Homo sapiens: one gene and its partners. The protein of the gene in region 3 interacts with the protein of the main gene of each other region in a pairwise test. Each region holds a gene or a part of one and is shown on either strand. Other genes may lie near its edges. The genes, in order: MYOC, AP2B1 and COL3A1.

The links.
Region 1: the proteins of COL3A1 (region 3) and MYOC interact in a two-hybrid assay, tested with the Homo sapiens proteins (one study listed by BioGRID).
Region 2: the proteins of COL3A1 (region 3) and AP2B1 interact in binary tests that used the Homo sapiens proteins (3 or more experiments, as listed by UniProt).

Annotation. Positions count from the first base shown.
Region 1 is NC_000001.11:171,639,006-171,642,739, reverse strand, and holds part of MYOC (myocilin precursor), read left to right. Parts: intron 1-3,734. UniProt on the Homo sapiens protein: Secreted glycoprotein regulating the activation of different signaling pathways in adjacent cells to control different processes including cell adhesion, cell-matrix adhesion, cytoskeleton organization and cell migration.
Region 2 is NC_000017.11:35,607,737-35,611,470, forward strand, and holds part of AP2B1 (AP-2 complex subunit beta), read left to right. Parts: intron 1-405; coding exon 406-651; intron 652-3,734. UniProt on the Homo sapiens protein: Component of the adaptor protein complex 2 (AP-2). Adaptor protein complexes function in protein transport via transport vesicles in different membrane traffic pathways.
Region 3 is NC_000002.12:189,005,373-189,008,872, forward strand, and holds part of COL3A1 (collagen alpha-1(III) chain preproprotein), read left to right. Parts: coding exon 1-85; intron 86-833; coding exon 834-887; intron 888-972; coding exon 973-1,080; intron 1,081-1,564; coding exon 1,565-1,618; intron 1,619-2,127; coding exon 2,128-2,235; intron 2,236-2,512; coding exon 2,513-2,566; intron 2,567-2,662; coding exon 2,663-2,770; intron 2,771-3,500. UniProt on the Homo sapiens protein: Collagen type III occurs in most soft connective tissues along with type I collagen. Involved in regulation of cortical development.

The DNA of each region.
Region 1 (3,734 bases), on a different chromosome or scaffold from region 3:
AGGCCTGCCATGTCCCGGGGGGTACTCCCAATTGCCCCTGGAGTTTGGAATGCACATTGAGGATGTCCTCAGTTACATATACATTTTGGCTTATGAGTCTTTCTTTTTTTAATTTTTTTTTTTTTTAAGACAGGGTCTCACTCTGTCACCCAGACTGGAGTGCAGTGGCATGATCATGGCTCACTGCAGCCTTGCCCTCTTGGACTCAAGAGTCATCTTCCTGCCTCAGCCTCCCGAGTAGCTGAGACCACAGACTGCACCACCACACCCAGCTAACTCTTTAATTTTTTGTAAAGATGGGGTCTCGCTATGTTGCCCAGCCTGGTCCCAAACTCTTGGCCTCATGCAATCCTGCCACCTCGGCCTCCCAAAGTGCTGGGTTTACAGGCATGAGCCACTGCGCCTGGCCAGCTTATGGGTTTTAACTACTTACATGGTGCACTCTAGACTGAGGGATATCCCAGGGATGGAGGACCCACCCACCTCCAGGGCATTAACACTTTTAGGGAGGCTAACAACTGCAGCCACACAGAGGCAGGGGTGGAGAGGAGAGAAGGGTAGCTGGGATCAGGGGCAGGCAGCTGCAGCAGCTACTGAGCTGGCTCACTGTGGGCAGCATGGCTGTCTGGCCCAGCCTGCACCTGAGAGCTAGCTGAATGTTTTCTTCACCTCCTTCCAGGGAGAAATTTTTTCCAGTACTATAATTTGTTGAAGCTGAACCCCAGCAACTCAAACAAGGTACCCTGACTCTGGAGATGTGAAAATGTAAAATAATGTGTGGCTTTGATGAAATGTGGTAGAACCAGAGGATTAAGACTTCTGTGGTGATCCTCTCTGCCTGAAATCTAAATTTAGGAGAGCTGAGCAAACAAATGATCAAAGGCAGAACATGTCTTCCCGACCCTCTCGGCTGTGTAGGCGCTCCGGCCTCAGGGGATGCACTGACTTTCCTCCCACTGTCCTGAACACCTGAGAATCCTGAGCGGGGAACAAGTTGCTCAAAGGGCAGAGAAGTGACTCAGAGGTTCAGCAAGAGAAAAGCCCAGTGTATTAAGCATGTCTTTTTATTCTGATGCTTTGCTGTCTGGGCCTTGCAAACGTGAGAGGGACTGCCCCTCCCAGGGGTAGCCAGTTCCTACGGTTAGCAAAGGACTCACCTGGGAGGACAGCTTTCATATGCAAACCAACCAATCCAGAGCCCACACCCTGTGACCACCTCCATCTGGCTCAAACTCAAGGCCACTGTCCCCCTGACCTAATCACCCAGGGCCTGGTACCAGACAATTAGAGATAACTCCTGTGACCCCAGATCCTGCTGAAATTATTCAAACTCCCCAATCCTAAACCTGCTTACCCTGCCTCCCCTTTCTTTCCTTCCCATGGAAAGAATAAAGGCGCTTTCCCACATTTTCCCCTGGTGCCCTCTTCTGGAGCAACCCTGGTGCTTCCCCAGGTGGCCTCCTGGGCTTAGTGTGCCCCCTTCCTCTTGGGCTCTGTGAGTACAACAACTTGTAAAGATAATTTTTTTTTAGAGCAGTTTTATGTTCACAGCCAAATTGAGAGAAAAGTACAAACAGTTCCCAGATACTACTGGCCCCCACACATGCACAGCCTCCCCGATTATCATCATCTCCCGCCACAGCAGTTGTTACAACTGATGAACCTGCATCAGCACGCACAACACCCAAGGTCCACGGTTTAAATTAGGGTTCATTTTTGGTGTTGCGCCTTCTATGGGTTTAGACAAATGCATAGTGACATGTGTCCACCATTATAGTATCATACACAGTATTCATTGCCCTAAAAATCGTCTGTGCCTCACCTAGTCATCCCTTCCTCACCCAACAACTGCTGATCTTTTTACTGTCTCCATAATTTTGCTTTAACTTGCTTTTCAGTGACAATTGCCTCCTGGGATGTTGGCCTTGCCACACCTGAATAATCATCAAACCTGCATTTTATTTGTTTTTATGTGTATGTGATGGGTTTTTTGGGAGGTTGGAGGGGAGGACAGGGTCTCACTCTACGCCAGGGCTGGAGTGCAGAGGTACGATCACTGCTCACCACAGCCTTGACCTCCCGGTCTCAAGTGATCCTCCCACCTCAGCCTCCCAAGTAGCTGGGACTGCAGGTACACATCACCACCCAGGCTAACTTTTTGTAGTTTTTGTAGAGATGGGATTTCACCATGTTGCCCAGGTTTGTCTTGAACTCCTGGGCTCCAGTGATCTGTCTACCTTGGCTTCCCAAAGTGCTGGGATTACAGGTATGAGCCACTGGGCCTGGCCAAACTGCATTTTAAAATAGCCAAGCCTGTTCCTTGTGACTATTGCCTCATCCTTGTATTCAAGACTGCTGTAAGATCATAATCCTAAGCAAGAGTAGAGACATGTAGCACACCATGATCACTTACTGTCTAACCAATGCTGCCCACCCGCTTCCCTTCTGTATGGCTCACCACCCCCACCCCAAACTCCTATAGGAACTCTGCACACACTCCCTCTCCATTATGCAAAACTGGTCTCAGAAAGGAATCAGACAGAATATTTCTACTGAAAGTATAAAGCTTAATATGTTACTTCTTACAAGAATATTTGCATATAACAAGGGAAAAAACCTTAAGTCATGCAGTAAACTTTTATCTTTTTTTTTTTTTTAACAGGAGTCTCCCTATGTTGCCCAAGCTGGTCTTGAACACCTGGGCTCAAGTACTCCTCCTGTCTTGGCCTCCCAAAGTGCTGGGATTACAGACATGAGCCACACTTCTTTTTTTTTTTTTTTTTTTTTTTTTTTCTTGAGACAGAGTCTTGCTCTGTTGCCCAGACTGGAGTACAGTTGCACAATCCCGGCTCCCTGCAACCTTTGCCTCCTGGGTTCAAGTGATCCTCAACCTCCTGAGTATCTGGAACTACAGGCATGTGCCACCACACCCTGCTAATTCTTGTATTTCTAGTAAAGATGGAATTTCACCACGCTGGCCAGGCTAGTCTTGAACTCCTGGCCTTAAGTGATCCGCCTGCCTCGGCCTCCCAAAGTGCTGGGATTTCAGTGTGAGCCACTGTGCCCGGTCTCTTTTTTTTTTTTTTTGAGACCTTGAGACCGGGCCTTGCTCTGTTACCCAAGCTGGAGTGCAGTGGCAGGATCATAGCTCACTGCAGCCTTGAACTTCTGGGCTCAAGCAATCCTCCCACATCAGCCTCCCAAGTACCTAGGACTGCAGATGCTTACCACCATGCCCAGCTAATTTTTCATGAATTTTTAATTATTGAAATTCAGACATCTAAGAAGATGCTGAGGACTGTCTCCATATTCCTGAAATTACGACTCACCTATTCACAAACCAGCCCTTCTAGTGGAATTAAAATATTATTTGATTTTGAATACCCTACTCTAAGGTAGGCACATTGCCCTGCAATTTATTATTTATGAGGTTTTTAATTATGGAATTGTTCAAATATTCACAAAAGTAGAGAGACTACAATGAACTCCAATGTAGCCATCACTCAGGCCCAACTGTTATCAGCACAGTCCAATCATGTTTTATCTTCCCTTCTCTGACCCCCAACCCATCCCCAGTCCTTATCTAAAATCAAATCTCAAACACCATATCTTTGGGAGCCTATTTATTTAGTTAGTTAGTTTTCAGACAGAGTTTCTTTCTTGTTGCCCAAGCTGGAGTACAATAGTGTAGTCTCGGCTCACAGCAATCTCCCCCTCCTTGGTTCAAGCAATTC
Region 2 (3,734 bases), on a different chromosome or scaffold from region 3:
ACTCACTGTGGAGTAGGGCACGGTCTTTACAGCTCCTCTTTTTTTTTTTTTTTTTTTTCCTGTGCCGGAATACAAGCCCAAAAGCTTTTCCTGTTTTTAGGGTAGATCCTAATGGCTGTGGGATGGTACGAACTCCCTAAACCTCTGCCTGGCACTAGAGTGAATCCTGCTGAGCTGTTTCTCATTTTGTATTTAAAACAGTTAAATGACTTCTTCACCTAAACTCTTAAATAGGGCAGCTAAGATTTGTACTTAGGAAAGGAATAGCATGGAAGATTGGAGCTCATGTAGAATGTATCTGGAAGCTTAAATTAATGAGGTAATTCTTTTGCAGCTTACATAAACTGGACTGTTTACTTTTAGCCACCATGTATACCTACAGTTGTTGGTGATTGTTTTCTGCAGGACTGTGAAGATCCTAATCCTTTGATTCGAGCCTTGGCAGTCAGAACCATGGGGTGCATCCGGGTAGACAAAATTACAGAATATCTCTGTGAGCCGCTCCGCAAGTGCTTGAAGGATGAGGATCCCTATGTTCGGAAAACAGCAGCAGTCTGCGTGGCAAAACTCCATGATATCAATGCCCAAATGGTGGAAGATCAGGGATTTCTGGATTCTCTACGGGATCTCATAGCAGATTCAAATCCAATGGTAATAAGCTTCTGCTTTTACAAAGAGAGCAGTATTTAAAATGAGTCCCTTGTTAAAGCGTGTTTAATATGAACCTTGTCTTTGGAATACTGGGTTATGGGGTAGCTATGGGAAACATGACTTTGTGTGTCTCACAGATTGTATATTTCATATCCTAGGTGTTTTTGAGGTGAGAACCAAGTACTAAAATGCAGGGATCTTAAAGCAAATCTTTGTATTGTACTTATGCTCATATTTGCCCATATTGCCCATGATGAAAACTTTCATCATTTTCTTCAGGAGGTTTGGCCGTAAATTTATATATATTTAAGATTATTTTCTTCAGATCAATATTTGTGGTATTTTCTGGTGGTGTGGGACTAGAAACTGAATGAAAATGATCTTTATTACCTAATTATTATCATGCATTTCTCTATAGGGGAATTTCTAGGGCAAGATTATTTTTAGCCAACTTGGTTATGTTGTAAATGTTTAGCAGCCAGAACATAGCTTAACACCTTAAAGTTTTGGGACCTTTTCCTTATTGACATTTTAAACTTTGCTTATATAATGAAGAAGGTCAAGTCCCAAGTGATATGTTTGACTCCAGTAATAACTAAAGCTCATTTGAATTGGGTACTAATTGAATATATTGGATGGGTCATTAAATATTGTTGCCAGGAAGATGGAGGAAAATAGCCACTTTCTTTAAAGTGCTACCTTTTTGGTCTAATGCAATGTTTACTGAAAGGTGCATAACACTAAGAGTTAATCAGTGGATAACCTTTGAATATTCCCTTTTAAAAATTATTTATCTATCTATTTATTTATTTTTTACAGATAGGATCTTGCTCTGTGGCCAAGCTGGAGTGCAGTGGTGCAGTCATAGCTCACTGTAACTTTGAACTCCTGGGTTCAAGCACTCCTACCTCAGCCTCCTGAGCATCTAGGACTGCAGGCACATGCCACCACATCCCGCTAATTTTTTTTTTTTTTTTGAGACAGAGTCTTGCCTTGTCGCCCAGGCTGGAGTGCAGTGGCGTGATCTCAGCTCACTGCAAGCTCCGCCTTCCAGGTTCATGCCATTGTCCTGCCTCAGCCTTTTGAGTAGCTGGGACTACAGGCGCCTGCCACCACGCCTGGCTAATTTTTTGTATTTTTTAGTAGAGACGGGGCTTCACCGTGTTAGCCAGGATGGTCTTGATCTCCTGACCTCGTGATCCACCTGACATGGCCTCCCAAAGTGTTGGGATTACATGTGTGAGCCACCGCACCCAGCCTTATTTTTTATGGAGATGGGGTCTTGCTATGTTGCCCAGGTTGGTCATGAATTCCTGGCCTCAAGCAATCCTCCCACCTTGGCCTTCCTCAGTGAATTACTGTGCTTGGCCTGAATATTTTCTTAGTGAACTTTAAATGGAGAATTAGAATTTGGCTGGACATAGATGCTGTCTCTCATTTGTAAATTACCTGTTCACTTCTCTGCTTTGACATTTTGTTTGGTTCATTTTATTTTACAGGTAGCCTTGGCTTCTGTTTATTATCCTTCAAGATTAGTATTAAATCCACAGGATGAAGCAAGTCATAATTTTTTAAGGTTTTTATGGTAGTAACTACCATTAGAAATCTTTCAACCTAGGCATAAGGGTGGGCGTCGGTGTGGGTGTGGAAGTGCAGATGCTTTAACCATGACTTCTGACAGAGCATCACCACCAGTACTAGAAGATTCAACCCTGCCTTTTATTTCCCCTAAGTAACACCATATGGTACCTTTTATTTATTTTTTATTTTTTTTTGAGATGGAGTGTCACTCTGTCGCCCAGTCTGGAGTGCAGTGGCATGATCTCGGCTCACTGGAACCTCTACCTTCTGGGTTCAAGCGATTCTCCTCCTGCCTCAGCCTCCTTAGTAACTGGGATTACAGGTGCCCACTACCATGCCCGGCTAATTTTTGTATTTTTAGTAGAGACGACGTTGCACCATGTTGGCCAGGCTGGTCTCAAACTCTTGACTCAGGTGATGCACCTGCCTTGACCTCCCAAAGTGCTGGGATTACAGGCATGAGCCATCACACCCAGCCCCCTTTTTAAAAATTACATAAAGAAATTAGTTGGCTAGGCATGTTGGCTCATATGCCTATAATCCTAGCACTTTGGGAGGCTGAGGCAGAAGGATCACTTGAAGCCAAGAGTTTGAGACCAGCCTGGGCAACAAACTGAGACCCTGTCTCTACAAAAATTTTTTTAAAAAATTCGGTGGGGCCGGGTGCAGTGGCTCATGCCTGTAATCCCAGCACTTTGGGAGGCCGAGGTGGGTGGATCACGAAGTCAGGAAATCAGGACCATCCTGGCTAACGCGGTGAATCCCCGTCTCTACTAAAAATACAAAAAATTAGCCGGGCGTGGTGGCAGGCGCCTATCGTCCCAGCTACTCAGGAGGCCGAGGCAGGAGAATGGTGTGAACCCAGGAGGCGGAGCTTGCAGTGAGCCGAGGTCGTGCCACTGCATTCCAGCCTGGGTGACGGAGCGAGACTCTTGTCTCAAAAAAAAAAAAAAAAATTTTGTTGGACGTGGTGGTGCATGCCTGTAATTCCAGGTACTTGGGAGGCCGAGGTGGGAGAATCCCTTGAGCCCAGGAGTTTAAGGCTGTAGTGAGCTATGATTGCACCACTGCATTATAGCCTGAGTGACAAAGACAGACCCTTCCTCAAAAATATAGAAAAATAAATATTGTCTAAAGTTAGTAGTATCTACTTTACAGAATGTTTAGCTGGCACCAACTTGTGTTTTTGGCATTGCTTTTGATTCACTGTTATTCTGAGCAACTATCTATAATTCTCTACCTGAGGACAGATGAGATGAAAAGTGTTTGTGCTGCAACCGTCAACCAGGTGGGCAGAATATCATGTACCCCGTGGAAACTTATTAAATATTCAGTGGTGCTAAGAATATGGAATGGCTCAAAGGGAAAATGAGTTCTAACTTACAGGCGACTCCAGTTTGAGGCAGCATCTCTATGCTAATGTAAATTCTTTAATGCAGAACCTATACAGTTAGATGGTCAGGGATAAGGCCTAAGGGATGTTTAGCAGTAAAGTCGTGTGT
Region 3 (3,500 bases):
TAACGGTCTCAGTGGAGAACGTGGTCCCCCTGGACCCCAGGGTCTTCCTGGTCTGGCTGGTACAGCTGGTGAACCTGGAAGAGATGTGAGTAGCAGTTTTTATTCAACCAGCCAGGTAGAATTTGATAATTTATTTCAGCAAAGGTGAAATTGAGCTTTAATGTCTAAGAGTGTAAATATGGCCACATAGCAAAGTTCTTCTATCTCTAATAACAGAAATTCTTTCATTACAATTTAGGATAGACTTAAAAGCTCTTGTTCATTAGTATTTACCCAATGAATAATCATTTGTGGAGAAAATATTATCTCTAACTAAATTAGGAAAAAAGTTAGTGGGGAGAACCACAATTGACATGTTTTCTGAGTGAAAATATTCTACGGTTATCTATGGTTAGTCTTTTATTATTTTTAAAGAATTTAAAATTAATATTATTTATAATTAACAAATCATAATTGTATACATTTATAAGGTACAATGTGATGTTTTAATATATGTATACAATGTGGAATGATTAAAGCAAACTAATTAAACTGTAGATTTCCACTAACAGTTTAGATCACTATTTCTTAAACTTTTATTTATTAGAGGTCTGTAAAGACTCTTTTTGGATATCATTTTTCTAATCACCTCTCCTCCATGAATACACTAACTATCTGTCTGGACATTGTGACCCTTTGAAGGGCCACACTGCTTTGTAATATCTAAGATTTCTTACCCCCAAGAACCAATTTTAACCCCCTTGAGAATTATATTGCCCTGCTGAGAATGCATGGATGAAATGGCATTTGGAAGGTTTCAAGAAATTTTATTTCCTTTCTCATTTTTTAATCAGGGAAACCCTGGATCAGATGGTCTTCCAGGCCGAGATGGATCTCCTGGTGGCAAGGTATAATAAACACATGTGCAATTGATTTGTGTTATCAAAATAAGTGATCATCATGTTTATTTTGTACCTATGAATTTGTTCACAGGGTGATCGTGGTGAAAATGGCTCTCCTGGTGCCCCTGGCGCTCCTGGTCATCCAGGCCCACCTGGTCCTGTCGGTCCAGCTGGAAAGAGTGGTGACAGAGGAGAAAGTGTGAGTTCCCAAAAGCAGCATCTGTCTTGTTTGTCTATTTCCTTCAATAAAGACATTTGTAGGTAGAAGGTAGAATGTCAGATCTGCCAACCAAAATATCCACTGTCATTTGTTTTACAGTTTTAATGCTAGTTGTTCCTTAGACAAATGTGTGAATAAGTCAATACCAGAAGTACTTGGCAGTAGTCAATAAAGAATTCATTACTGAAACCCGAAATCATATTAATCAGACCAACTATCTATATGCTGGGTAAATGCAAGGCCAAGTTAACAGGGCTCTTGCCCAACTTTTCTGTCTAGATCCCCTGAGAAAGCTATAAACAGGGCTTTAGCACTTTGAAGGCAAAAACAATATTAACTTCCAATAATTGCATGCATACTATAATTCTATTATAATGAAATTATTTACTTTTGAAAACGAAATTGTGTCAACACATAAAACTAGTTCCGTGTATGTCTTCTCAATTGAATGTTTTCATCTTAGGGCCCTGCTGGCCCTGCTGGTGCTCCCGGTCCTGCTGGTTCCCGAGGTGCTCCTGTAAGTTTTGTCATTTTTTGGTTTTATTTTGTTTTGTTCTTTTTTTAACTCATTCTACAGTGTAGGAAATATTTTATTTTCCAGCGTGTTCAGGAAAAAAGAATGAATATATATATATATATATATATATATATATATATATATATATATTTGTTCTATCTATAGATAGATGATAGATAGATAGATAGATAGATAGATAGATAGATAGATAGATAGATAGAACAAATATAAACTTTCCTTTAATGACAATGATATGGAAAGCAGTTCAGGATCTAAAAGTTCTTTGGAGCCAAGGATAGAAACATCAGTTGTTAGGGATCCATGCAATGATCAGTCCAAAATGAAAACAACCACAGAAACAAATCTCATTTCCTATCTGAAGTGTCTGTTGATGGGGGATTTTTTAGCTGATAGAAAGCCATAAAATAGATTTAATTATTATAAATTCTATTTTATTTTTCCAATATGTATGTGTGTATATGACTTCAATTCAAAATATGTTTCTAAAGGGTCCTCAAGGCCCACGTGGTGACAAAGGTGAAACAGGTGAACGTGGAGCTGCTGGCATCAAAGGACATCGAGGATTCCCTGGTAATCCAGGTGCCCCAGGTTCTCCAGTAAGTGCATTCATTTTGTTGGAAAATCCCTTCAATGTATACAAATTTTAGAGATTAAGAGAAGAAAGCTTTCCATCTCTAAAAATATGTACTAGAAGAGATGAGAAATGGATTTGAAGGCTAATTTGAAACAACAATCAGCATGACACAATGGGAAGATTAAAGAAAGAAAAAAAATTTCATCATGATCCCCATGTTTCTTGATCTGATCTTGAATGTACAGTTTCCCAGTGCTTTTTAAGGCCTTCACTCCTATGTACACTTCCTTTCTTTCCAGGGCCCTGCTGGTCAGCAGGGTGCAATCGGCAGTCCAGGACCTGCAGGCCCCAGAGTAAGTAGCACAGAAAGATATTACAGGTCCACATGTTTCAGATGTCTGCATTTCAGAAAGATATTCTGGCATTGTGATGTCATGATACTTTCTTAGGGACCTGTTGGACCCAGTGGACCTCCTGGCAAAGATGGAACCAGTGGACATCCAGGTCCCATTGGACCACCAGGGCCTCGAGGTAACAGAGGTGAAAGAGGATCTGAGGTAAGACATCACTTATACGTATGTGTATTTAATTTGCTACAATCTTCCAATTTTCAGAAACACAGCGCATTATGTTTAAATTGAAATAGAGAGACGCAATGCATCCACTCAATTTAGAAACTGAACAATGACTTTAAGACATTCTCCATCACATTAAAAATGTTTCTACCACACTATAACAGGAGAAAAATACCTTTTTAAAAATTTGATCAGGTATCCATCGTATCAGAATAATGACATCTGCCCAATTAACCAAATAAACCCTGTCCACATTGCTATCCCACTAGAGATCTCAGAATTACAACATTCATAATTATCTGCGTTTATGTAGTGCATTTTACTTCTCAAACAGCTTCCATGGTTACTATTTTGTTAATGATACTATCATTCCTAATACTTTCTATTCCATGCCTTTGGGTAAATGAAATAAAAACAATTATCCCAACAAATTACACTCCCCTCTGTCATGTCAATATTGGAATTGTAGCTCACAGGTGTTTGCTTACATCAGTCATCCAGAAGGAAGAATGATAGAGAAAACTTGTGCTCTGACACTACTGATTCTTACATAGTGGAACAATATCTTTCTTGATAATGAATTGTAGTTATTATAAATCGGTGATCACGTGACCCTAAAGGCACCCAAATAAATCTTTAGTAAAATAATTCTGATGACACAATGAATGAATTATTTTTAAGGCATTTTCTTGGACTAGCAATGTATTCTTAG